Regions from separate parts of the Homo sapiens genome. Here regions 1 and 3 are each linked to region 2. The links come from fine-mapping of genetic effects on gene expression. A gene starts in region 2. Each other region holds a variant in brackets. All regions are shown on one strand. Distances are between the middles of the regions.

Region 1 (5,000 bases), 75 kb before region 2:
GTGTGTCCCACGTTTGACCCTGGGGTATGTGTGTGTGAGGACATGTCTCTGTCTCTCTGTTTTTCATGTCACTCTCTTGACGTGTCAGTCTGTCTCATGTCCCCATCTGTCCCTTTTTTTTTTTTTTTGAAATGGAGTCTTGCTCTGTCACCCAGGCTAGAGTGCAGTGGTGCAATCTCGGCTCACTGCCAGCTCCGCCTCCTGGGTTCATGCCATTCTCCTGCCTCAGCCTCCTGCGTAGCTGGGACTACAGGCTCCCGCCACCACGTCTGGCTAATTTTTTGTATTTTTAGTAGAGACAGGGTTTCACTGTGTTAGCCAGGATGGTCTCAATCTGACCTCATGATCTGCCCGCCTCGGCCTCCCAAAGTGCTGGGATTACAGGCCTGAGCCACCATGCCCGGCCCCCATCTGTCCCTTTCTGCCATCTCCATGTCTCTAAGTCTGCATCTATTTCTTCTACCTCTGAGTCTGTATTTCTTTTCTTCCCTTCTTCATTTTCAGTCTCTGCTTTTGTGTCTCCTAGTCTCCAGGTTCTGTGTCTCCATCTCTCTGACTTGCATCTCCATGTCTTCATTTGTCCTTTTCTCCATGTCTCTGGGTCGCCATCACTTACTGCCTACCAAAAGCCCCTACCCTCATGCTTATACATCTCTTCTCTCCCTGCCTCAGTTTAACCCAGAACTGGTGCTGGTCTCAGCTGGCTTTGATGCTGCACGGGGGGATCCGCTGGGGGGCTGCCAGGTGTCACCTGAGGGTTATGCCCACCTCACCCACCTGCTGATGGGCCTTGCCAGTGGCCGCATTATCCTTATCCTAGAGGTAACTTTCTCTTGGTCCCTCTTCCCACAGTGGGAGGGTAGTTTGGAAATGTTGGCACCATCACTCAGGACAGTTTCCTGAAATCTCCTTTGAGTGTCCCTGCCTGGGATTGTTGGCACATACTGGGTAGTAATAAGAATAACAGCAACATTAACAGCCTTAATTGAGTGCTCACTATGTGCAGAGCACTCTTCTGAGCACCTCATGTGTCTTATTCATTCAGTTACTTGGCAAAGCAGCCTTATGAGGTAGGGTAAGCTTACCTCATTTTCCTCTCTGAAGATCAGGGAAACTGAGGCACAAAGAGGTGTGATGACTAGCCTGAGATGGCACATTTACTGATGGCAGAACCAGGACTTGAACCCATGCAGCCTGGCTCCAGGGTTTGTGCTTTTTACTCTACCTGAACTGCCTCTAACAAGTTCCTGGGACAAAGGAAATTCACTGACCTTTGTAAATGACTCAGTATCCCCACGCCCTGTGCCTCAGTTTCCTCATCTTTATGAGGCAGGCTAATCATGGAGGAATGCCTGGCATATGGTAAATGCTGGATCTTTTGGATCTGGTTTTTTGTTGTTGTTGTTGTTGTTGTTGTTTGTGAGACAAGAGTCTCGCTCTGTCACCCAGGCTAGTCTGCAGTGGCATGATCTCAGCTCACTGCAGCCTCCACCTCCCGGCTTCAAGTGATCCTCCCACCTCAGCCTCCTGAGTCGCTGGGATTACAGGCACCCGCCACCACGCCCAGCTAATTTTTGTATTTTTAGTAGAGATGGGGTTTCACCATGTTGGTCAGGCTGGTCTTGAGCTCCTGGCCTCAAGAAATCCACCCACCTTAGCCTCCCAGAGTGCTGGAATTACAGGCATGAGCCACCGCACCTGGCCCCTGGTTACTGTTATGCGTTGTTCAGATATTAACCCACTCAGCAACCTTCTGTGCTCTTATTTTCTTTTTCTTTTTCTTTTTTTTTTTGAGACGTTGTCTTGCTCTGTCGCCCAGGCTAGAGTGCAGTGGTGCGATTGTGGCTCACTGGGTTCAAGCAGTTCTCTGCCTCAGCCTCCTGAGTAGCTAGGATTACAGGTGCCTGCCACCACACCCAGCTAATTTTTTTGTATTTTTAGTAGAGACGGGGTTTCACCATGTTGGCCAGGCTGGTGTTGAACTCCTGACCTCGTGATCCACCTGCCTCAGCCTCCCAAAGTGTTGGGATTACAGGCATGAGCTACCATACCTGCCT[C/CT]TTTTTTTTTTTTTTTTTTTTTTTCCTTTTGAGACAGAGTCTCGCCGTGTCACCCAGGCTGGAGTGCAATGGCGCTATCTCGGCTCACTGCAGCCTCTATCTCCCAGGCTCGAGCAAGCAATTCTCATGCCTCAGCCTCCCGAGTAGCTGGGACTACAGGCGCATGCCACCACGCCTGGCTAATTTTTGTATTTTTAGTAGAGACGGGGGTTTCACCATGTTGGCCAGGCTGGCCTCAAACTCCTGACCTCAGGTAACCTTCCCGCCTCGGCCTCCCAAAGTGCTGGGATTATAGGGGTGAGCCACCGCGCCCAGCCTGTGCTGTTATTTTCACCACTTTACAGATGAGGAAAATAAGTCACTGAGAAATTAATTGGCTTGCAAAAAGTCGCACTTACTATGTGCCCAGTACTGCTTGTGACAGGACACGGTGGGAGTTAAGAACACAGATGACTCCATCAGAGAGCCCAAGTTCAAACCCCAGTGCTGCCTCTTCAGCTGTTATGACCTCGGACAAGTCATCTAACCACTCTGAGCCTCAGTTTCTTTATCTGTAAAAAGAATAGCAACTGGGATTCCTGTAGAGTGTAAAAAAAGTCAATACAGGAGTCCATGTGGAGAAAGAGTCCAGTTGTTCCTGTACTAGGTCAGGGCAGGGGCTTTTGTATGGGTTCACAGCAGTCGTCTTGTGCAGGTCAGGTCAGTGGTTACTGTATGATGTGAGGCCAGGGGTTCCTGGACAGTGTGAAGACGGATTTCTGTATGGCATGAAGGCAAGTTCCTGTATAGATTGAGCGCCTGTGGTTGTGAGGATTGAGTTAATATGCATGAAGTACTTAAAATCGGGTCTGGCACACAGCAAACAATAAATGTCAGCTGTTACTAATGCTTTTATCAGTATTGTTATCTTGCACTTTACATCACAATTTACTCCCCACAACAACCACCTTACACAGTGGGTGCTGCCTATCTTAAAGGTGTGGGTTCTGTTCACTTGTTCTCAGTACTCCCCCTCCCTCTCCAGACTTGCAGGGCTCAGTAGGGAGGATTGGGGAGGCAGGACATGTTGTCCTCCAAATTCCCCAATGAACCCCCACCATACCTTTCCCTCCCCTTTTCCTTAACAAAGGGTGGCTATAACCTGACATCCATCTCAGAGTCCATGGCTGCCTGCACTCGCTCCCTCCTTGGAGACCCACCACCCCTGCTGACCCTGCCACGGCCCCCACTATCAGGGGCCCTGGCCTCAATCACTGAGACCATCCAAGTCCATCGCAGATACTGGCGCAGCTTACGGGTCATGAGTGAGTGGATTTGGGGGTGATGGGGGGAACCCAGGGAAGGAGGGGGCTGAGGGGCAGAGATCAGAGGCAGGAAGGGTGACAGTACCCACACTCAAGGATCTCCCTCCCTGGTTCCAGAGGTAGAAGACAGAGAAGGACCCTCCAGTTCTAAGTTGGTCACCAAGAAGGCACCCCAACCAGCCAAACCTAGGTTAGCTGAGCGGATGACCACACGAGAAAAGAAGGTTCTGGAAGCAGGCATGGGGAAAGTCACCTCGGCATCATTTGGGGAAGAGTCCACTCCAGGCCAGACTAACTCAGAGACAGCTGTGGTGGCCCTCACTCAGGACCAGCCCTCAGAGGCAGCCACAGGGGGAGCCACTCTGGCCCAGACCATTTCTGAGGCAGCCATTGGGGGAGCCATGCTGGGCCAGACCACCTCAGAGGAGGCTGTCGGGGGAGCCACTCCGGACCAGACCACCTCAGAGGAGACTGTGGGAGGAGCCATTCTGGACCAGACCACCTCAGAGGATGCTGTTGGGGGAGCCACGCTGGGCCAGACTACCTCAGAGGAGGCTGTAGGAGGAGCTACACTGGCCCAGACCACCTCGGAGGCAGCCATGGAGGGAGCCACACTGGACCAGACTACGTCAGAGGAGGCTCCAGGGGGCACCGAGCTGATCCAAACTCCTCTAGCCTCGAGCACAGACCACCAGACCCCCCCAACCTCACCTGTGCAGGGAACTACACCCCAGATATCTCCCAGTACACTGATTGGGAGTCTCAGGACCTTGGAGCTAGGCAGCGAATCTCAGGTAAGGCTCACCACACCCAGGTAGGGGCAAGAAGGGGCAAGAATCGGGCTTCTCTGATACATCTCTTACTTCTGCGTGTCCAGGGGGCCTCAGAATCTCAGGCCCCAGGAGAGGAGAACCTACTAGGAGAGGCAGCTGGAGGTCAGGACATGGCTGATTCGATGCTGATGCAGGGATCTAGGGGCCTCACTGATCAGGTGAGCTCAGGGAGAGGCTGGGACTGTGGCTTCCTTCTCTTGCCAATTTGTGTCTCCAGGTAGGAGCATGTGATGAATAAACATATAATGGGGAGATGGGGTCTTCAGCTTACCTAGTTTCACCCACCCACTCCAGGCCATATTTTATGCTGTGACACCACTGCCCTGGTGTCCCCATTTGGTGGCAGTATGCCCCATACCTGCAGCAGGCCTAGACGTGACCCAACCTTGTGGGGACTGTGGAACAATCCAAGAGAATTGGGTGTGTCTCTCTTGCTATCAGGTATGGAGCAGAGGAAGGGGATGGGGCGGAGGTTGGCCCGGGAGCAAACTGCAGGGGGATGCTGACCCCCACCTGACACTCACACCCCCAACCTCAGGTCTACTGTGGTCGTTACATCAATGGCCACATGCTCCAACACCATGGAAATTCTGGACACCCGCTGGTCCTCAGCTACATCGACCTGTCAGCCTGGTGTTACTACTGTCAGGCCTATGTCCACCACCAGGTGGGCCCTGGGTAGACCCTTCGACACGTGCACACTCACCCCCCACACACACACCCCTTCTGTGATTGGGTAAAGGGAGACCACAGGCCCCTCTGCATGGCTGCCTCATGTGATTATTTTGCATGGGGCGGGGGCTGTG
Region 2 (7,657 bases):
CGGATCACTTGAGATCAGGAGTTCGAAACCAGCCTGGCTAACATGGTGAAACCTCGTCTCTACTAAAAATACAAAAAGTTAGCTGGGTGTGGTGGTGGACGCCTGTAATCCCAACTACTCAGGAGGCTGAAGCAGGAGATCACTTGAACCCGGGAGGTGGAGGTTGCAGTGAGCCGAGATCACGCCACTGCACTCCAGCCTGGGTGACAGAGCAAGACTCCGTCTCAAAACAACAAATAAAAACACTTGACCACACTGAGCAGAGGAAAGCAGAAAAGCAGCTCTGTGACAGAAGGGGAGGCTGATCCAGGGCACCTTCTTTGAAGGAGCTAGGTCTCCTGGCCCCCTTCTTCCATCCCAGATCCACCCTGAGGCCACATGGAGGGAGGGGAATCACCTTCACAAATGCCGTGCTGAGTGTCCAGAAAGAAGGGACTCCTGTGAGGCCACATTTCCCAGCCTCGGTGACGGGGGCTTGTGGACCAGGAGTCAGGGATATTGGAGTGTGTGGGGGGGGATGGGGTCAGGGGTGCAACGTCCAGAACCACCCCCATCCCCAGCAATCCTGGTGTTCATTCACTTCTTTCCCAAGCTTGTTCCTCTGACAGCTAGGACCCATCACCAGGCCCCAGACAACCTTATTCATGTCCCTAATTCACATCTTCATTCTCCCTTCCTGCTCATCCATCCCATAGACATTTACTAGAGCCCACTTGCTGTGGGCCTCCAAGTCCTAGGGCTTCCAAGTCCCTGAAGCAGGCTCTGCCCCTCATCCTAAGGAGGGGCCCCATAGGCAGTTCAAGGAGTCCACACATAGGCATTTCAAAACGGGCTTTAAATACTCATCAGGGTGCCACACAAAGGAGCTGGGGTGAGAACTTCGTACATGTGAGTGTGGGGCTGGGGTGCCCTGAGAGAGAAAAAGGGGACCCATCTGTCAGGGCAGCTGGGGTGCCCCACCCCCACCCTGGGACTAGGGAGCAGAGTAGAAACCCTCTCTGGAGGGTCCCAGGGCTAACTGGGAGCCAGCCCTCCCTTCGAGGTAGACCATCGGGGAGGGAACCGAGAAGTAGCTCCCATGGTGGCAGTGGCTTCCTCAGTGGTACTGCTGATAGCTGGGGTAGCCTGGGGCCGGGGTGCCATCCTTAGGGGGCAGCTGGCTGGGGTCCTCCAGGAATGGGGGCGCTGGAGAAGGGAGACTTGGGTAAGGATGAGTGGAAGAGGCCAGGTGGAGTATTTCCCACTCCCCCGACCACCAGTTACTCACCATTTCGGAACTGCTGGGCTGTGTAGCGAGTGAGGAGGATGCCAACGCCCTCAATGAGGGCCAACAGGATGCCCCCCATCATTGCTGAGCCCACCATGGCCAGTGGGCCACCTGGGGGAGTTGGAGGCAGAGAAACAGAGGTGAGAGCAGGCAGAACAGGGTGGAAGGGGCTGGGGCCAGGGCCAGGGGTCACTCACTGCGGGCAGCCAGCACAGCCCCGGTCAATGCTCCACTGGTGATAGAGTTCCAGGGATCCTCCTTGCCCCGAAGCCGCACCAGGCCACAGTCGATGGTGGAGAACAGGCCCCCCCACACTGCGAAGCTACCTGTAGTGGAACCGAGGCCTAATTAGTTCCTGGGAAATCCTGAGAATTCACATCTCAGGGGACTTCCAAGGCCTGAATGCTTTGGCCAAGAACAGGGAGAAAAACCCAGACACAAAGGCAGATAGCAAACCCACACAGAGTATTTCCTATCTGTCCCCATCCTGTGGTAGCTCCCACTTCAAGCCGTCTATAATCACCATCAACATTCCCTTCATCTTTATGGGGAGTTGACAAATGTTTACAAGCAGATTTATCTTCATATGGCTTTTAACAGAGCAACTTTGAGCTTCATAATCACCACACAGAGTTGGAATTCTGATTTGGGTTTCAGTGAGAAGGAAATAGGTTAGGAAACCCAGTTAATATGATAGTTAAAATGTTTACTGAGGGCTTACTGTGTGCCAGGACCTGTTCGAGGTGCTCTGTTATTTAACTTCTGCAATTTTAAATTAGTTAATGTTATTAAAGTGTTTAGCATAGCAACCAGCACTTAGTAGTATGTAAATTACATAAACTATAAAACTACCGATGAAGTGGTTACTGTTATCACCACCCCCACGGTACAAGTGAGGTTCAGAGAGGTTAAGCCACTAGCCCAAGGTCACATGGCAGGGAACAGTCAGGACCTAGATTTAAACTCCAGAACCCACTTTCTTCCCCTCCATATTCAATTGTTGGGAAACATCACCCCCCTAGAAAGTCTCTGGCAGGGGCTAGAATCTGAACCCCTAACTTGCAGCCTAGACCCAAAGGATCAACCACTCCCACCTTTGCCAAGACATCTCCTATATCTATCTCCCCAAGTCCCTCACCTCCAATCTGGGGGGCTCGGATCCTCACAGCATTGGCACTACCTCTCAACCGGTGCCGAATTCCCTGGGGAAAGGAAGGAAGGGCGTTAGGGCAGGGCTGAAGCCACTGGCAGACACGTTTCCAACTTTTAAGAGAGGGAAGAAGATGGGAGACCTGTTAGAGGTATGAGCTGTAGAGATGTGGAGAAGTGGCCAAGAACTAGTGGCCTGGAGAGCGCCCCAACATGGGTGTTCTCAGAGCTAGGTTGAGAAGTGCTAATTCATTCATACATTTGTTCATTCATTCATTCAGTGAATGATTAACAAGTACCTACTATATGTGCCAAGCACCATGCCATATGCAGGGATACAGCCATGAACAAGGTAGGTCTGCTCTCTGCCCTCTCAGAGCTCACATTAACGGTGGGAGACACAGATCTTGAGCAAGAGTAGATAAACAAGGGAGCTTCAGACAGCAATCTGCACTGTAGAGGAAATGCCATGAAGAAATATGACTGGGGCTGAGGGGTCAGGAAAGGCCTCTTGAAGGAGGGGGAATCTGTGCTGAGACCTTGAGGATGACAAACTTGGGCAAAGATCCAGGGAGGAGAGTTCCAGGAGTCTAGGGGAGGGACGGGGCTACATATATAAATTGCAGAGACCTTGGCTAATAGATGGCATTTAAAGTCATGGCATTTGCGATCTTCTGGGAGGGGAGGTGGTCAGAGAAAAAGAATTATGTTAAAAGAATTCTCTCAACTTCAAGGCTGTCTTCCGTCTGCCAATTAAATTCCTGTCATTTTCCTCTATCCGGGTTTCTGAGCCAGAATCTGCCTCTAGGTAAAATGCGCAGTGGCTAACACCTGTAATCCCAGCACTTTGGGAGGCTGAGGTGGGTGGATCACTTGAGTTCAGGAATTAGAGACCAGCCTAAGCAACACGTTGAAACCCCGTCTCTACAAATAAATAAATACATACATAAATAATTAGCCGGGCATGGTGGCGCAGTCCTGTGGTCCCAGCTACTTGGGAGGCTGAGGTGGGAGGATCACTTGAGCCTGGGAGGCGGAGGCTGTAGTGACCCATGATCAGGCCACTGCACGCCAGCCTGGGCAACAGGGCAAGATGCTGTCTCAAAAAAAAAAAAAAAAAAAAAAACATGGCCAGGCACAGTGGCACACGCCTGTAATCCCAGCACTTTGGGAGGCCGAGGTAGGTGGATCACCTGAGGTCCAGAGTTCAAGGCCAGCCTGGCCAACATAGTGAAACCCCATTTCTACTAAAATTACAAAAATTCGTCAGGTCTGGTGGCACATGCCTGTAGTCCCAGCTACTTGGGAGGCTGAGACAGGAGAATTGCCTGAACCCAGGAGGCAGAGGTTGCAGTGAGCCAAGAGCGTGCCACTGCACTCTAGCCTGGGCAACAGAGCAAGACTGTCTCAAAAAAAAAAAAAACTGTCTGGCTTTGCACATACATTTAAAATTTGGTGATGACTCTTTGAACGACACAGCATTTCCACAGAGGAGCTCCAGTTGGGTGGGGTGGAGGGTGGAAGACAGAGGCCATGTTTGCAATCCCTACAAAATCCCAGATACAGGAGCCAGGCTCGGCACATAGTAGGTGAGTGGGCACCAGAATGAATAAGTGCACGTGACTGGCAGCTCCAAGCAGTTTTCAGAGCAGCCTCCCTTGTGGGCAAGATAGCTAACCCCACACCAACCCAGGGAAGGCCTGGACTCACAACAGGGGCATTGCGGAAACCCTTGATGGCCTGGAAGACTCCGCCACCGATGACACCCATAGTGAAGGCTCCACCGCAATCATCCACAATTCGCCATGGGCTGCAAGCAGGAAGGGAAGGACGGGGTTAATGTGAGCCCTCCCCCAGGTCCTGTCACACGAACTCTTTTCTAACTGGGAGAAACCAAGTCACCAGAATGGGAAGTTCCTAAGTAGGAACAAACACTTCAGATAATAATGAGCTAGTTCTGTCACGCTTTTTCCACACACCCCCCCATTAAAGCGAGAAATGGGGCAAAGGGGGAGAAATATTAGTCTTCGCCCTGTCTACCAACCAAGGAATCAGCCAACGGTTTTACTGTGATCAAAGATTAAATGAATTGGCACACGCAGAGTTGACGTTTCAATAAGCGACATAGGCGTGTTAACTAGCCAAGACAGACTGTCAGCAAAGCAGGACCGCGTCGCACCCCTTCTCCGACGGTGAGCCCGTCCAACCATGCCCCGCCCCTTTTCAATCCGGCACAACTGGGAAAAACCAAGAGCGACCGCGGGAAGCATCCACCGTCCCCGCCGGCCCTCAACAGGTTCATCCGTGCCCCGCCCCCCACTGACAAAGGCGACCTGGGAAAAACCACTGGCGGCAACTCTGGGGATTTCCGGTCAACACCGTACCACCCCTAGCCGGGATGGATCGTCCAGCGTGTCTTTTTTCGTTAACAGGGCTAGGAGATTACGAAGTCAGGAGAAACATGGCGTGGTTCGGCCTTCGCCGCACCTTCTCTGGTTGTGGCCCCTCATAACGGAGCCCGAATGACAGGAACCGAGTGGGGGTAGCGGGAGATACGTTAAGAGTCCCCCGAGTCTGGTACATGGCTCTGTGCGGCCGATGCCTCCCCCGCCCGACCCCCACGGCTGGCCTTGGCGTCGCAGCAATATTCCGGATGCCTGTGCCCATTGCCGTACCAGGGCTCCCGAGCGTACTCCTCCATGGCGCTGGCGTCTGGCCGCGCAGTCAGGCCACGCCCCCAGCGTAGACGCACACCGGCGTCGGAGCTTTCCGCCTATTACCGGGCAGCGATTGGGTCGCTATACCGCATGTCACGCCAAGGACGCACTCTCATTGGCCAATCGAGTTTCTGCCATTTGTTCATTGCCTCCTGAGCGTAGTCCAGTTACTTTCAGGCTCGGGGAGTGAAGGCCTCGTTGAGAGAAGGTCTCATTCGGTGTTTTGGGAAGAGAGTCGTGTGGGCCCAGGTATCGTAGCGGCGACACGAGAGAGACGGGCGGTGTGACAGCCTTCCACTACCTGCACGAGTGTATTGGTAACGTTGGGGTGGGTGCACTCTTTTGGAGCTGGAGGAAGTGCTGCCCTCTGCTCCCCCATCCCAGCGCTTTGGTTTCTCCCACCCGGCAGTCATGGGGACGCTGGATGAGCCCATTTCTGAAGTGCGGAGGGGCCGGGCTTCTTAGGCTGTGGGCGGAGCCTGGGCCTGGGAGAGGAACAGGGCCCTGGAGCACCTGGTTTCGGGGACAGTAGGGTTGGTGGGAGTTGCGATGATATTGCCACCTACCTCTTACATCTTTTAGTGCGTATGTTCTGTCCACCCAGCTACTGGTTCATTTGAGTAGATCGGAGTCAGATGAGTACATGTTTACGGGAGGCGCTTGGTTACGGGATCCAGATAGGAATCTTTATCTGAGCTGCTTGTCAGTTTGTTCGTCTGTCCCTAGGTCTGTCTGCTATCAGCTATGCCGCTGCCCGTTGCGCTGCAGACCCGCTTGGCCAAGAGAGGCATCCTCAAACATCTGGAGCCTGGTGAGACAGCTAAAAGCAGATGGTCCTAACACGTGCCAGCCTCGACAGGCACTTTTGTTGTTGATACTGACGCTTGATACCTAGCATGGGCCAACTGTGCACCAAGCAATGGGGTGGCAGGCATTTTTCGTTGTTAACAATGTGGATTCCTGACATCCATCCCTACCGCGTGTCAAGTGGAGGGGGTTGGGGGAATAGATATTTCATTCTTTTTTTTTTTTTTTTTTTTTTTTTTTTTTTTTTTTTTTGAGGCAGAGTCTTATTGTGCACCCAGGCTGGAGTGCAGTGGCGCGATCTCGGCTCACTAAAACCTCCGCCTTCCAGGTTCAAGCGATTCTCCTGCCTTAACTTCCCGAGTAGTTGGGACTACAGGCACGCCCCGCCCCACCACACCTGGCAATTTTTTTTTTTTTTTTTTTGAGACAGAGTCTCGGTCTGTCGCCCAGGCTGGAGTGCTGTGGCGTGATCTCGTCTCACTGCAACCTCCGCCTCCCGGGCTCAAGCGATTTTCCTGTCTCAGCCTCCCAAGTAGCTGGGATTACAGGCACGTGATACCACACCCGGCTGATTTTTGCATTTTTAGTAGAGACGGGTTTCACCATGTTGGCTAGGCTGGCCTCTAACTCCTGACCTCAGGTGATCCACCCCCCACCCTTGGCTTTCCAAAGGGTTGGGATTACAGGCATAAGCCACTGTGCCCGGCAGATATTTCATTCTTAACAATACTGACTGGCTGGGCGTGGCGGCTCAAGCTGGCATTCCCAGCACTTTAGGAGGCTGAGGCGGGTAGATTGCTTGAGTTTAGGGATTAAGAGATTAGCCTGAGCAACATGGCAAAACCCCGTCTTTACAAAAAATACAAAAATTAATCGTGTGTTGTGGTGCATGCCTGTAGTCCCAGCTACTTGGGAGGCTGAGGTGAGAGGATCTCTTGAGCCTAGGATGTCAAGGGTGCAGTGAGCCGAGATTGTGCCACTGCACTCCAGCCTGGCCGACACATGGAGACCCTGTCTGAAAAAAATCCAAAAAAAACAACAAAATAATACTGACCACCTAATGCCTATTTGGGGCCTACTGTATGCCAAGTTAAATCCCATGGATTACTCTATGGGGGTGATGACATAGTATCTAATAGGAAGTACTGCTAACCTCTACTGCTGTCTCCTGTGTGCCAAGCGTAGTTGCAGTGAGGATCTATCATTTAGGCCTACTGTGCTCTGGCTGCAAATCACACCTTATTATCAGTAATACTAAAAACTGGCATCTATTTGGGGCTATAGTGTGCCAGGCACTGGAAAATATATCTTCTCCTTATTGATAACTGACATCTATTACAAGCCTACTGTGTGCAAGGTATAGACCTTGTGGTTAATAAAATTGTCAATGATCCCAGGCCGGGCAGGGTGCCTCATGCCTGTAATCTCAGCGCTTTGGGAGGCGGAGGTGGACGGATCACGAGGTCAGGAGATCGAGACCATTCTGGCTAACAGGGTGAAACCCCATCTCTAATAAAAATACAAAAAACTTAGCCGGGCGTGGTGCCAGATGCCTGTAGTCCCAGCTACTCGGGAGGCTGAGGCAGGAGAATGGTGTGAACCCGGAAGGCGGAGCTTGCAGTGAGCCGAGATCATGCCACTGCACTCCAGCCTGGGCAACAGAGAAAGACTCCATCTCAAAAAAATAAAACTGGCAATGATCATTGATTTACTTTTT
Region 3 (10,910 bases), 110 kb before region 2:
CTGGACGCAGTGGCTCACGCCTGTAATCTCACCACTTTGTGAGGCTGAGGTGAGTGGATTGCTTGAGCCCAGGAGCTCAAGACCAGCCTAGGCAACATGGTGAAACCCCATCTCTGCAAAAAATACAAAAATTAGCCAGGAACGGTGGCATGCAACTGTAGTCCCAGCTACTTGGGGGACTGAGGCAGGAGGATCACTTGAGCCTGGGGGGTCAAGGCCTCGGTGAGCCACGTTCACCCCCACTGCACTGCAGCCTGGGTGACAAAGTGAGAACCTGTCTCAAAAAAAAAAAAAGTGAAAAGACAACCTACAGAAGACAATATTTGAAAATCACATATCTAAAAAGAGTCTAGTATCCAGAATACATAAAGAACTCTTACTACTCAACAATAAAAGGACAAATAACCCAATTCAAAATGGGCAAAGGATTTAAATAAACACTTCTCCAAAGAAGATAAATGGGCTGGGCACGGTGGCTCATGCCTGTAATCCCAGCATTTTGGGAGACTGAGGCGGATGGATCACTTGTGGTCAGGAGTTCGAGACTGGCCTGGCCAACATAGTGAAACCCCATCTCTCCTAATAATACAAAAATTAGCCAGGCATGGTGGCGGGTGCCTGTAATCCCAGCTACTCAGGAGACTGAGGCAGGATAATCACTTGAACCCAGCAGGTGGAGGCTGCAGTGAGCCAAGATCGTGCCACTGCACTCCAGCCTGGGTGACAGAGCAAGACTACATCTCAAAAAAAAAAAAAAAAAAAAAAAGAAGATAGATGACCAACAAGTTTATGAAAATATGCTCAACATCAGTGGTCACAGGGAAATGCAAATCAAAACCATAACAAGACACCACTTCACACCCACACCCAGTAGGATGGCTAGAATCAAAAAGAGGGACAATAAAAAGTGTTGGAGGCCAGGCATGGTAGCCTGTAATTCCAGCACTTTGCAAGGCCAAGGCAGGCAGATTGCTTGAGCCCAGTAGTTTGAGACTAGCGTAGGCAACGTGGCGAAAATCCCATCTCTACGAAAAATTAACAAAAATTTAGCTGGGTGTGATGGCATGCACCTGTAGTCCTGGCTACTCAGGAGGTTGAGGTGGGAGGATCACTTGAACCCAGGAGGTTGAGGCTGCAGTGAGCAGAGATCATGTCACTGTACTCCAGCCTGGGGAACAGAGTGAGACCCTGCCAAACAAAAGAAAAAAGAAAAAAAAGAAAAAAGAAAGAAAGAAAGAAAGAGAGAGAGAGAGAGAGAGAGAAAGAAAGAAAGAAAGAAAGAAAGAAAGAAAGAAAGAAAGAAAGAAAGAAGAAAGAAAAGAAAAGAAAAGAAAAGAAAGAAAGAAAGAAAGAAAGAAAGGAGTGTTGGAGAGAATGTGGTTAAATTTAAATTTGAATCCCCATATGGCAGCTGTGGAGAACACTTGCAGTTCCTCAGAAAGTTAAACATAGAATTACCATATCACCCCGCAATTCCATTCCTAGTTATATACCCAAGAAAACGAAAAACATATGTCCACATAAAAACTTTCACATGAATGTTCATAGCAGCATTATTTGTGATAGCCAAGAGTCCATCAATGGGTGAATGGATAAGCATAATGTGGCATTTCTTTTTCCTTTTATCTTTTGAGACAGGGTCTCACTCTGTTGCCCAGGCTGGAGTGCAGTGGTGCAATCATGGCTCACTGCAGCCTCAACTTGCTGATCCTCCCACCTGAGCCCCCCAAGTAGCTGGGACCACAGGCATGCACCACCACACCCGGCTAATTTTTCTTTTTTGTAGACACGTGTTCTTGCTACGCTGCCCAGGCTGGTCTCGAACTCCTGGGCTCAAGCAATCCACCCACCTCAACCTCCCAAAGTGCTGAGATTACAGGTGTGAGCCACCGCATCCTAGCTATAATGTAGTAGGTATTTTCATACAAAGGAATATTATTCAGTCATGAAAATGAATGAAGTACTGATACATGCTACAATATGAATGAACCTTAAAAAACTTATGTGAAGTAAAAGAAGGCAGTTACAAAAGGCCACATATTATATGACTGCATTTATATGAAATGTCCAAAACAGACAAATTCATAGAGACAAAGAGATTTGTGATGGCCCGGGGATGGGAGGAGAGGGAAATGGAATGGGAGGGTGTATGTTAATAGATATAGGGTTCCTTTTGGGGGTGATGAAAATGTTCTGGAATTAGGTAGTGGATAGTTACACAACCTCGTGATATACTAATCGCTTTGCTATACATTTTAAGAGTGAATTTTATGGTTAAGAGCAAATTTTATGGTATGTGAATTATGTCTCAATAAACAGAAAAAGAAAAAAAAGAATGAACTATTGATACACACGACAATGTGGAAGAATGTCACAGACATTATGCTGAGCAAAAGCAGCACATACTGTATGATGTGCTTCCATTTCCATGAAGTGCAAAAACAGGCCAAAAAAACCCCAGGTATCATATGGTGTTTATGGGTACCAACATATGGAGTGATGGAGTAAAAATACTCATGAGGAAGATAAACACCAAGCTCAAGGCAGTAGAAGGAGAGAGGGAAATGGAATCAGTACAAGAGCATCTGTAATATCGCATATCCTTTAAAAACAATCTGAAGTCAATAAGGCAAAATATTAATGTTTGACAAAAGTAGATGCTTGTTACAGCACCCTTTATACTTTCCATTTTTTAAAACAGTCAACCAACAGTTTGTTTCTGAGGGCAAACGCTTGACTCCTTAACCAGGCTTTGGTTGACATTTGCCTTGGTGCTTTTGACACCACAGTCTGTCAGGCTCTGTCCCCACCCTGATGGGCTCCACAGTACAGAAGAGGCACAAACAGTACAAATGCCATGGGGCCTGGACCAAGCAGGGGCTCTAGAACCCCAGAAGATGCCAGGAGGGAGTGAGCCAGTCAGGGAAGGCTTCCGAGAAGAGAGGACATTGAAGAAGAGTCTCAAACTTAGGCCTGACGGAGAAGACGCGCGGCCAGGACACCCCACCCCCGCCCTCGTCTCCCCCAAAGCCTGATCTGGCCCCACTGATTCCCTTATCTGCCCACTCCCAGCTGCCTCCTTGCTGGCTGAACTGTCGCCGCAGACTTCTGAGCCTGCGCCCCCTCCACGGGGATGGGGGAGGGAATGGGGTGAGGCCTGGCCTCACAGCCTCGGGGTTTCCAGCTCTTGCTGGAGGCAGGGCTCTGGGGCGCCCTACTCCTCACCCTTGGCTTCTCTTCCTGAGCGCTCTGTGCTCTCCAGAAATGAAGAAATGGGGTGAGTCCAGCGGCCAAACCCTTGTCTTAGCTCTTAGACATGCCTCGAGCCTGCCATTCCCTGTGAGGACAGATTTCCCTATGTTGCGACCGCTGCTTCTAATAATAATAATGATGATGATAATTCCCATTTACAGAGCACACCATTTATGGTGTGCCAGCAGGCCCTGTGCTGAGTGGTTCCTACCCACGTGGGGGGCTAGGACTTTACCCGTTTTCCAGATGAAGAAACTGAGGCTCAGAGGGCGTCTGGCCCAGGAATCACACAGCAAATCACACAGCAAATCAGAGTTGAGACAAGAACCCAGGGCCCTGGAGGAACATCTTCATTTCCACACACCTATGTAGAACCAGTCTGGAGGTGAGGGCAATTATACACACTTGCACCACAAGGAGCTGGTGAGAATGCGATAGAATTATGGGTGGAGAGCGCTTAGCACAGTGCCTGGGGTCACTCAGCAAATAATGCCGCTGCTGTTATTATTAGTCTATTAATGCTATTATTAATATCAGAATTAAACAAGCCTCGGCAACATAGCGAGACTTCATCTCTATTGAAAAAAAATTTTTTGCTGGGTGTGGTGGCATGCACCTGAAGTCCCAGCTCCTCAGGAGGTTGAGGTGGGAGGATCACTTGAGCCCAGGAGGTGGAGGCTGCAGTGAGCCAAGATTGTCACTGCACTCCAGCCTGAGTGACATAGTGAGACACTGTCCCCAAAAAATATTTAGTACGTATCATTATCACTATTGTTGTTAGAATTAGAATAGTTTTAGAATTAGTGTTAGTATTAATAATAGTATTAGTGTTAGATTAAAATTAGTATTAGCATTAGATGAGTATTACTATGAAAATTAGTATGTCCTCATAGAAGTAGAGAGTAGAATAGTGGTTACCAGCAGATGGGAGGGTAGGAGGCAGGGAGGGATGGGGAGAGGCTGTCAATGGGTACAAAGCTACAGTTAGATAGGAGGCATAAGTTCTGGTGTTCTAATGCATAGTACAATGACTAGAGTCAACAATAAATGTATATTTCAAAATAGCTGAAAGAGGCGTTCTCGAATGTTCTCATCACAAAGAAAAGATAAATGTTTAAGGTGATGAATATGCTAATTACCTTGATTTGATCACTACACAATGTATACATGTAACAAAACATCATGTTTTACCCCATATATATGTACAACTATTATGTGTCAATCATAAATTTAAAGAAATAAAATTAGTTTTAGTGTCAGTATCAATATTACAATATTGGTATTACTCTTAGTGTCAGCATATTATTAGCATTAGTACTATAAGTAGTAGTAGGGTTAGAAAGGGCTATGTACTCTCCCTTGTATGCAGTAGGTACTCAATAAATAAATAGGGGTACTTAATATTTATTGAGATTTCAGATTCAAGTAAGTTAAGATCATGTAACATGGGTTAAAACTCATTTAGTCTCCCCAGTCACTGCATGGAGTGGCTTATTGGGGTATATTATTACCCCATTTTTACAGATGAGGAGCTAAATTCCAGAGGGGATGGTAACTCTCCCAAGGTCACCTGATCCATTAGTGGTTAGGGCAGTCTATGAACGAGGATGAGCTGGCTCTAGAGACCATCTCCTGAAACCACTGCCACTTAAGTCAGAGGTGTCTTTGTATTCGTTCTCCTTATTACTGATGAGGGTTCAGCATGGGGCGTGGCACACCAGCAGGAGCTCAATAAATAGGAATTCATGGGCTTGCTCTCTTTCCTCCTCAAATCTCCCATTGCATATGAGGACACTGAGGCTCAGAGGAGTGAGATAAGAATGGTAAGATCCCTCCAGGGTGGGCCAGTGGGCAAGCTGACCCCACTGACCTGGGGCTCCACCCTTGGCCTCTGCCCTTTGTAGGTCTCAGTCTCCCCATCTGTAGACTAGGTGGGCAGGACAGCTCCTTGTCCCACGTGTGCATGTGTGTCAGATGCTTTCATATAGAAAAAGTGCTCAGGTTAGGTACAAGTCTATGTGAGGTCTATGAGACACTGTGGTTGTTGTCATTAATATTTGGAGGAGGTGGGGCAGGGCAAGAGTGTGGGGACTGGGGTGCGGAGGCCTAGCCACATTCTGGTTGTCCCCTGCTGAGGGCTGAGGGCAGAGCCACAGGCTACATCAATCCACATCCTCCCATCCTACCTGCATGGGCACCACATGCCCAGGGTGTGATCCAGTCTGCCTGGACCTTCTTCTGAGTCTGTCTCTGAATATCCCTCTGTCTCTGTCTCCCTTCTCAGTTCTCCACTTCTGTCTTTGGCCTCTTTCCCTTTCAGGTTTTATCTGTCACTTCTGTCCATCTCTGTCTCTCATTCTCTCTTTGCCTCTCTCTATATGTCTTTAATGGTCTCTGGTTCTCCCCGGGTGTCTCGCCCTCTTTGTCTCTCCTTTTCTTTTGTGCCCTCTCTCTGCCTCTTTCCACGTCTGTCTCCTTCTCTATTCATCTCTGTCACTCTCTTTCTCCCCATTTCCATCTCTCTCCGCCTATCTCTGTTTTTGTTTGTCTCTCTGCCTCTGTCTCTCCCACTCCACCCCTTTCCTTTCCTACCCTATACCACTCCTCGAGGAATCATCCCTGGCTCCCACCTCAGTTTCCCGCCTCCAAGGCAGCATGGCGGGCAAGAAGTTGAGGCCACTGTCCCTGGGTGTTCCTACCCCCACACCCTCACCCCAAGACAGCCTGTTACTGCGGCGCCAACAGCCACGGTCGCCTACATCTGATAAGACTTATCTGCTGCCCCAGGGCAGGCCGGAGCTGGCGTAAGCCCCAGTGGGGCGCTAAGTGAGTGTGCCCCTGCCTCCCGCCAGCACTGGCCTGGCCTGCAGGCTTAGCCTGGGTCATCAAGGTATCCCACAGGCTCTAGTTCAAATCCAGCAGAACCTCTCTGAGCCTCACTCTTCTCACCTGCAAAATGGGTACAGCCACATCCCTTCTCTCCCTGCAGCCAGGAAGACGCACATACACAGGAGTCTAGCCCACACCGGCCCCGCACAAATTAAGGGCTTTACTCTCTGAAAAGCCCAGTGAAGTCATGAAACCATATCTGCTATTTTCATTTATCTTGGTTTCAGCCTATTTTGCTTGTCTGGACACTACAGTCCACGGGAGCCTAGGTCGAGCGAGGTCCAAGAATCCCCAGGGTGGGCAGGGAGGGTGGAAGAGGGCCTCCAGTGCCCAAGAGGTGCCCCACAAGCATGGGACCCGCCCCCTCCCCTGGACTGCCCCACCCACTG[G/A]GGCACCAGCCACTCCCTGGGGAGGAGGGAGGAGGGAGAAGGGAGGGAGGGAGGGAGGGAGGAAGGGAGCCTCAAAGGCCAAGGCCAGCCAGGACACCCCCTGGGATCACACTGAGCTTGCCACATCCCCAAGGCGGCCGAACCCTCCGCAACCACCAGCCCAGGTCAGTCTCAGCCCCCAGAGAGCCCCCACCAAGGCAACCCTGGGCCTGCTGCCCCTACCCTTATGCTTGCTCCAGGCTCCCCAACCCACAGCTGGTCCCCAAAGTGTCAGCCAGCCCTGAATCCCTTTACAGCTCCTCCAACCCACCTGTCTTTCCAACTCCCATTTCTACCCCAAATCTACCCCCTAAACCCCACCTCTTTCTGCCCTCTCATCCACTCCGTCCAAGATATCTATATCCTCTGGATCCCTTCACTTTGCTCGCTATACCCCTAGGTCTGTCTCCCCTAAACACTAACTCTGTCTCCCAAAACATGACTTTATCTCCCCAAATCCTTTCCCTGTCCCATATCTGATTTCCACTCACCCAAACTTGTCTCTGTCTCCCTGACTTCTCCTCCAAACCTCACTTTTCTGCTCCCAAACCCCTTATCTGCTCTACAACGCCTTGTCTTTGCCCCACTCTCTCTGAGCCCCCAAACCTGTCTCTGATCTGCCAAACCCTAGCTCCATCCTCTTACCACCATCTCTGCCTTTCAAACCCACTCTTTGTTCCCAATGACTTCTCTCTGATCTCCGCAAACCATTTATCTCTCCCAACTCCCTGCCTGCTCAGTAAAATATCTTTGTCACTTCAAACACCAAGTCAACTCCCCAAAATCTGTTCTGCCGCATGAACCCTCATGTCTGCCTTCCCCAAACCGTATCTCAGCCCTAAAACACATCTCATTGTCTCCCTGAATCTCTCCAGCTCCAAGCCTTTCTCTACTCCAATTCTATCTTGGCTTCTCAAACTCCCCTTTACTAGCCACATTCTGTCTGCCCAAACAGATCTTTGACTCCTAAACTCCATCTCTCCTCCAGAAAAACCCTTGAACTCCCCAGACTTTTCTATGACCCTCAGAATCTGACTCCCACACTACTTCTCAACTTTATTTCTGACTCTCAAACTTCGCCCCGATCCCCCAACCTCGTCTGTTTTCACAACCTATTCCTGAGCCCAAAATGTGTCTCTGAACTTCCAAGCTCGTCTCTGCTCCACAACCCCGCCCATATCTGCCTCCCCACAAACTCCATGGCTACACCCCAAACCTCTCTGACTTAACCCCATATCTGACCTTCAAATTCCACCTCTATCTCCCCCTAAGCCCCATATCTGCCCCCTAGACCTTATATCTGCTCCCTTCAGCCCGGTGAGACCCTCCCTTGAGGGCTGGGATTGGAACGTTACCTGGGGTGAGGGGCTGGGGCCGAGGGAGAGTGGAGGGTGCCAGCTGCTGCCTGCTGCCGCCGTTGGGGCAACACTTACTCTAGTGGGGCAGCTGATAAGGAGCTTTCATATCCCCCAGCCTCGAGATAAACTTTATCTCTGTCCGGAGAGTGATAACTGGGGGTGAGGAGGCTGGGCCCCTGCCATGGGAGGGGTGGGCAGCCCTGGACTCACCAACGTGTGAGGTGCAGGGGTTGGGGGCAGTGGGGCTGGAGGGAGATCATGGTGGGTAAGGTGGAGTTGAGGGGATGAGGGAATAGTGGTGAAAGAGTGAGCAGAAGACACACAATGAGACAGGGAAGAGAGGGAGAAACAGGGAGAGATGGGAAGAGAGAGACAGAGACACAGAGACAAAGAGCAAGAGACAAAAGAGACATGAAGAGAAAGGAAAAACAGAGAGAGAGAAACTCAACGAGTAAGAGACAGAGACAGACAGATGGCCGGAGAAAAAGAAGGAAAGACCCGGGAGCAGAAAAGGAGATAGAAATGCAGAGATACACGCAGGTAGCACTGTGAAGAGGCAGAGACTAACACAGAATTAGAGACAGAGAGGAAAGAGATGGAGACCAAGATGGGGAAGCAAAACACTCTCTTCAGAGAGCAACAGCAGGCACCCTGGGGCTGAGAAGGTGTTGGCGGTGGGCACACTTGTGGCCCATCTCTTTCCTAGCATAACTCCCAAGCCTGGGCCTGCCCCTTAGCCTGTCTATACCATGGGTCATGTAAGCAGGAGTGAGGGGCAGTTTGAAGACAGCCTTCTAGTCTAGCCCTGTCACTCCACCCTACAGACACAGAAACAGAGCAGGCCAGCACAATAGGGCCAGGGCCAGCATTCCAGGCTCCTTATCCTGAGCTGCATGTGGCTGGGTACGGTCAGGGGTATGGGACTAGTAAGAGGCACGTGGACATAAGGTCAGAGGGCCCAAAGAGAGGGAAACAGAGGGAACAGACAAACAAGCAGGAAGAGTGGGAGAGATGCAGAGATGTTCAGAGAGATAGGAGAGGAGAGGGAGAAAGCAAGAGTAACAGAAAGAGAGAGCCAGAGAGAGAAACATGGGAAGACAGAAAAGAAGACAGAAAATCATCAAACATTACAAAAGCACAGAAAGAGGTCGGGCGCAGTGGCTCACGCCTATAACCTCAGCACTGTGGGAGGCCGAGGTGGGCCGATCACTTGAGGTCAGGAGTTCAAGACCAGCCTGGCCAACATGGCAAAACCTCGTCTTTACTAAAAATACAAAAATTAGCTGGGTGTGGTGGCATGTGCCTGTAATCCCAGCTACTAGGGAGGCTGAGGCACGAGAATCACTTGAACCTGGGAGGCTGGGGTTGCAGTGAGCTGAGATCGCACCACTGCACACCAGCCTGGGTGACAGAGTGAGACTCCGTCTCAAAAAAAAAAAAAAAAGAAAAAGAAAAAGCACAGAAGGAGAAGACAAGCTATATCATAGAAACACAGAAAGCTGGGGAAGCTACAGAGTCAGACTTGAGAGGGAACAGAGAGTCAGGGGAAAGAGCCCCAGGGGATAGAGAAGTGGAGAGCTAGATGACAGACACACACAAGGCAAAACAGGCAAAGGGCCATCCCACAGGTCTCAGCTCAGCCCCAGCCCATCACCACCCCCAATACAGCAGATGGGGAAACTGAGGCCTGGGAACTGAAAGAGCCTGAAAGCAGAACTCTGGTGGGCCTCTCCAGGGGAGAGGGTACCGGTAGAGGTACCTCCCACCTGCCACCCTCTTCAGAGGAAGTCAGTGGCCTTGGGGTGATTTCAAAAGTTGGGCGGGGAAGGCAGAGATAAGCAGTGGGGGGTACTGACCCCCCCCCAACCAAGAAGTAGGGAGGAACTAAGGGGGCCTTCTGTCTGTAGACGCAACAGAGGTGGAGGGAGGAGGGAGTCAAGCCCGGAAACCATGGGGTTTCTGAGAAAGTTAGAGGGCAAGATACAACAGATAGGGATGAAGTTGGGGAGCAGAGGATGGTGAACCCCAAAGTCCTGGGTGAAGTGACCAAGAGGCAAGGGACTCTGGTCCTGCATGCCATCCCACCCTCACCCAGACTCTTCTAGAGGGGGAGGGAAGAAAGGACGGGGGGACGGGGAGAATAAGAGGAAGTGGAGGAGGGGAGGAGAGGAGATGGGGAAAGGGAGAAAAGGATGAACAGAAAAGGGAGGAGAAGGATGAAGAAATTGGAGGGGAGGAGAAAATGAGTAGTAGGAGAAAGGAGTGGAGAGTAGATGTAGACAGGGGAAGAGAGGCCGGAAGTGGTGGCTCACACCTGTAATCCCAGTACTTTGGGAGGCTGAGGTGGGAGGATCACTTGAGGCCAGGAGTTCAAGACCAGCCTGGGCAACAGAGTCATACCCCATTTCTACAAAAAAAAAACAAAAACTAGCCAGGCCTGGTGGCACACACCTGTAGTCCCAGCTACTCAGGAGGCTGAGGCAGGAGGATCACTGCCGGGAGGCAGTGGTTGCAGTGAGCCGAGATCGTGCCACTGCACTCCAGCCTGGCAACAGAGGAGACCCTGCCTCAAAAAAAAGTGTGTGTGGATGGGGGAGAGGGAGATAAGGTGTGTGAGAAAGGTAGAAAAGGAGAATGAAGACAAAAAGAGAAGGAGGACAAGGAAGAGGGGAAACAGGAAAGGAGAAGGAGGAGGTCAAGGAGGAAAAGAAGAAGGTGGAGGAGAAAAAGGAAGCAGGAGAGAATGAGAAAAGAGTGGAAAGAGAAGGAAATGGGGAAGAGGGGGGCAAAGAAGAGATGGGAAGAAGAGAGACGGGAGAAAGACAGGAGGAAAAGGGAAGGGGGGAAGAAGAGAGAGAATGGAAGGAAGAAGGGAGAGGTAGAAGCAGATGAGAGTGGAGGAAGAGCGAGAGGAGGGAGGAGAGGAAAGACAAACGGCAAGAGGGGGAGAACGAGGAGGAAGATGAAAGGAGGGGCACACAGG

Direction of the effects. Alleles are on the strand shown, and positions count from the first base shown. SD is a standard deviation of normalised expression in the study named.
In carriers of allele CT in region 1, the expression in monocytes of the gene that starts at base 5,298 in region 2 tends to be lower than with C alone (large effect, 1.2 SD a copy in Fairfax 2014).
With allele A in place of G in region 3, the expression in esophagus mucosa of the gene that starts at base 5,298 in region 2 is lower (small effect, 0.28 SD a copy in GTEx).

What was found. PIP is the estimated chance that this variant, and not a neighbour inherited with it, causes the effect.
Region 1: its variant is the best candidate, but not a certain one, in a credible set for the expression of PQBP1 in monocytes (Fairfax 2014, PIP 0.56).
Region 3: its variant is the best candidate, but not a certain one, in a credible set for the expression of PQBP1 in esophagus mucosa (GTEx, PIP 0.52).

Annotation. Positions count from the first base shown.
Region 1 is chrX:48,819,434-48,824,433 of GRCh38, forward strand. HDAC6 (histone deacetylase 6) reads left to right here. Exons shown (of 29, transcript NM_006044.4): 23 at 673-822; 24 at 3,187-3,361; 25 at 3,479-4,155; 26 at 4,239-4,352; 27 at 4,489-4,635; 28 at 4,733-4,861. Among named protein-coding and RNA genes, the nearest start is that of ERAS, 4.6 kb to the right of the region's middle. The variant C/CT (reference allele first, on the strand shown) is at 2,058.
Region 2 is chrX:48,892,633-48,900,289 of GRCh38, forward strand. PQBP1 (polyglutamine binding protein 1) reads left to right here and starts at 5,298. Exons shown (of 7, transcript NM_001032382.2): 1 at 5,298-5,450; 2 at 5,860-5,944. The coding sequence starts at 5,878. It overlaps TIMM17B (translocase of inner mitochondrial membrane 17B), which reads right to left and starts at 5,136. Exons shown (of 6, transcript NM_001395498.1): 1 at 5,092-5,136; 2 at 4,127-4,226; 3 at 2,406-2,469; 4 at 1,465-1,593; 5 at 1,268-1,378; 6 at 817-1,185. The coding sequence starts at 5,117. The coding sequence ends at 1,097. RefSeq lists enhancers at 4,652-4,801, 4,832-5,031, 5,322-5,691, 5,742-5,961.
Region 3 is chrX:48,779,952-48,790,861 of GRCh38, forward strand. GATA1 (GATA binding protein 1) reads left to right here and starts at 6,639. Exons shown (of 6, transcript NM_002049.4): 1 at 6,639-6,694. RefSeq lists an enhancer at 2,713-3,441 and cis regulatory regions at 2,786-3,366, 2,846-3,346, 4,666-5,326, 5,766-6,886, 9,446-10,026 and 1 more. The variant G/A (reference allele first, on the strand shown) is at 6,531.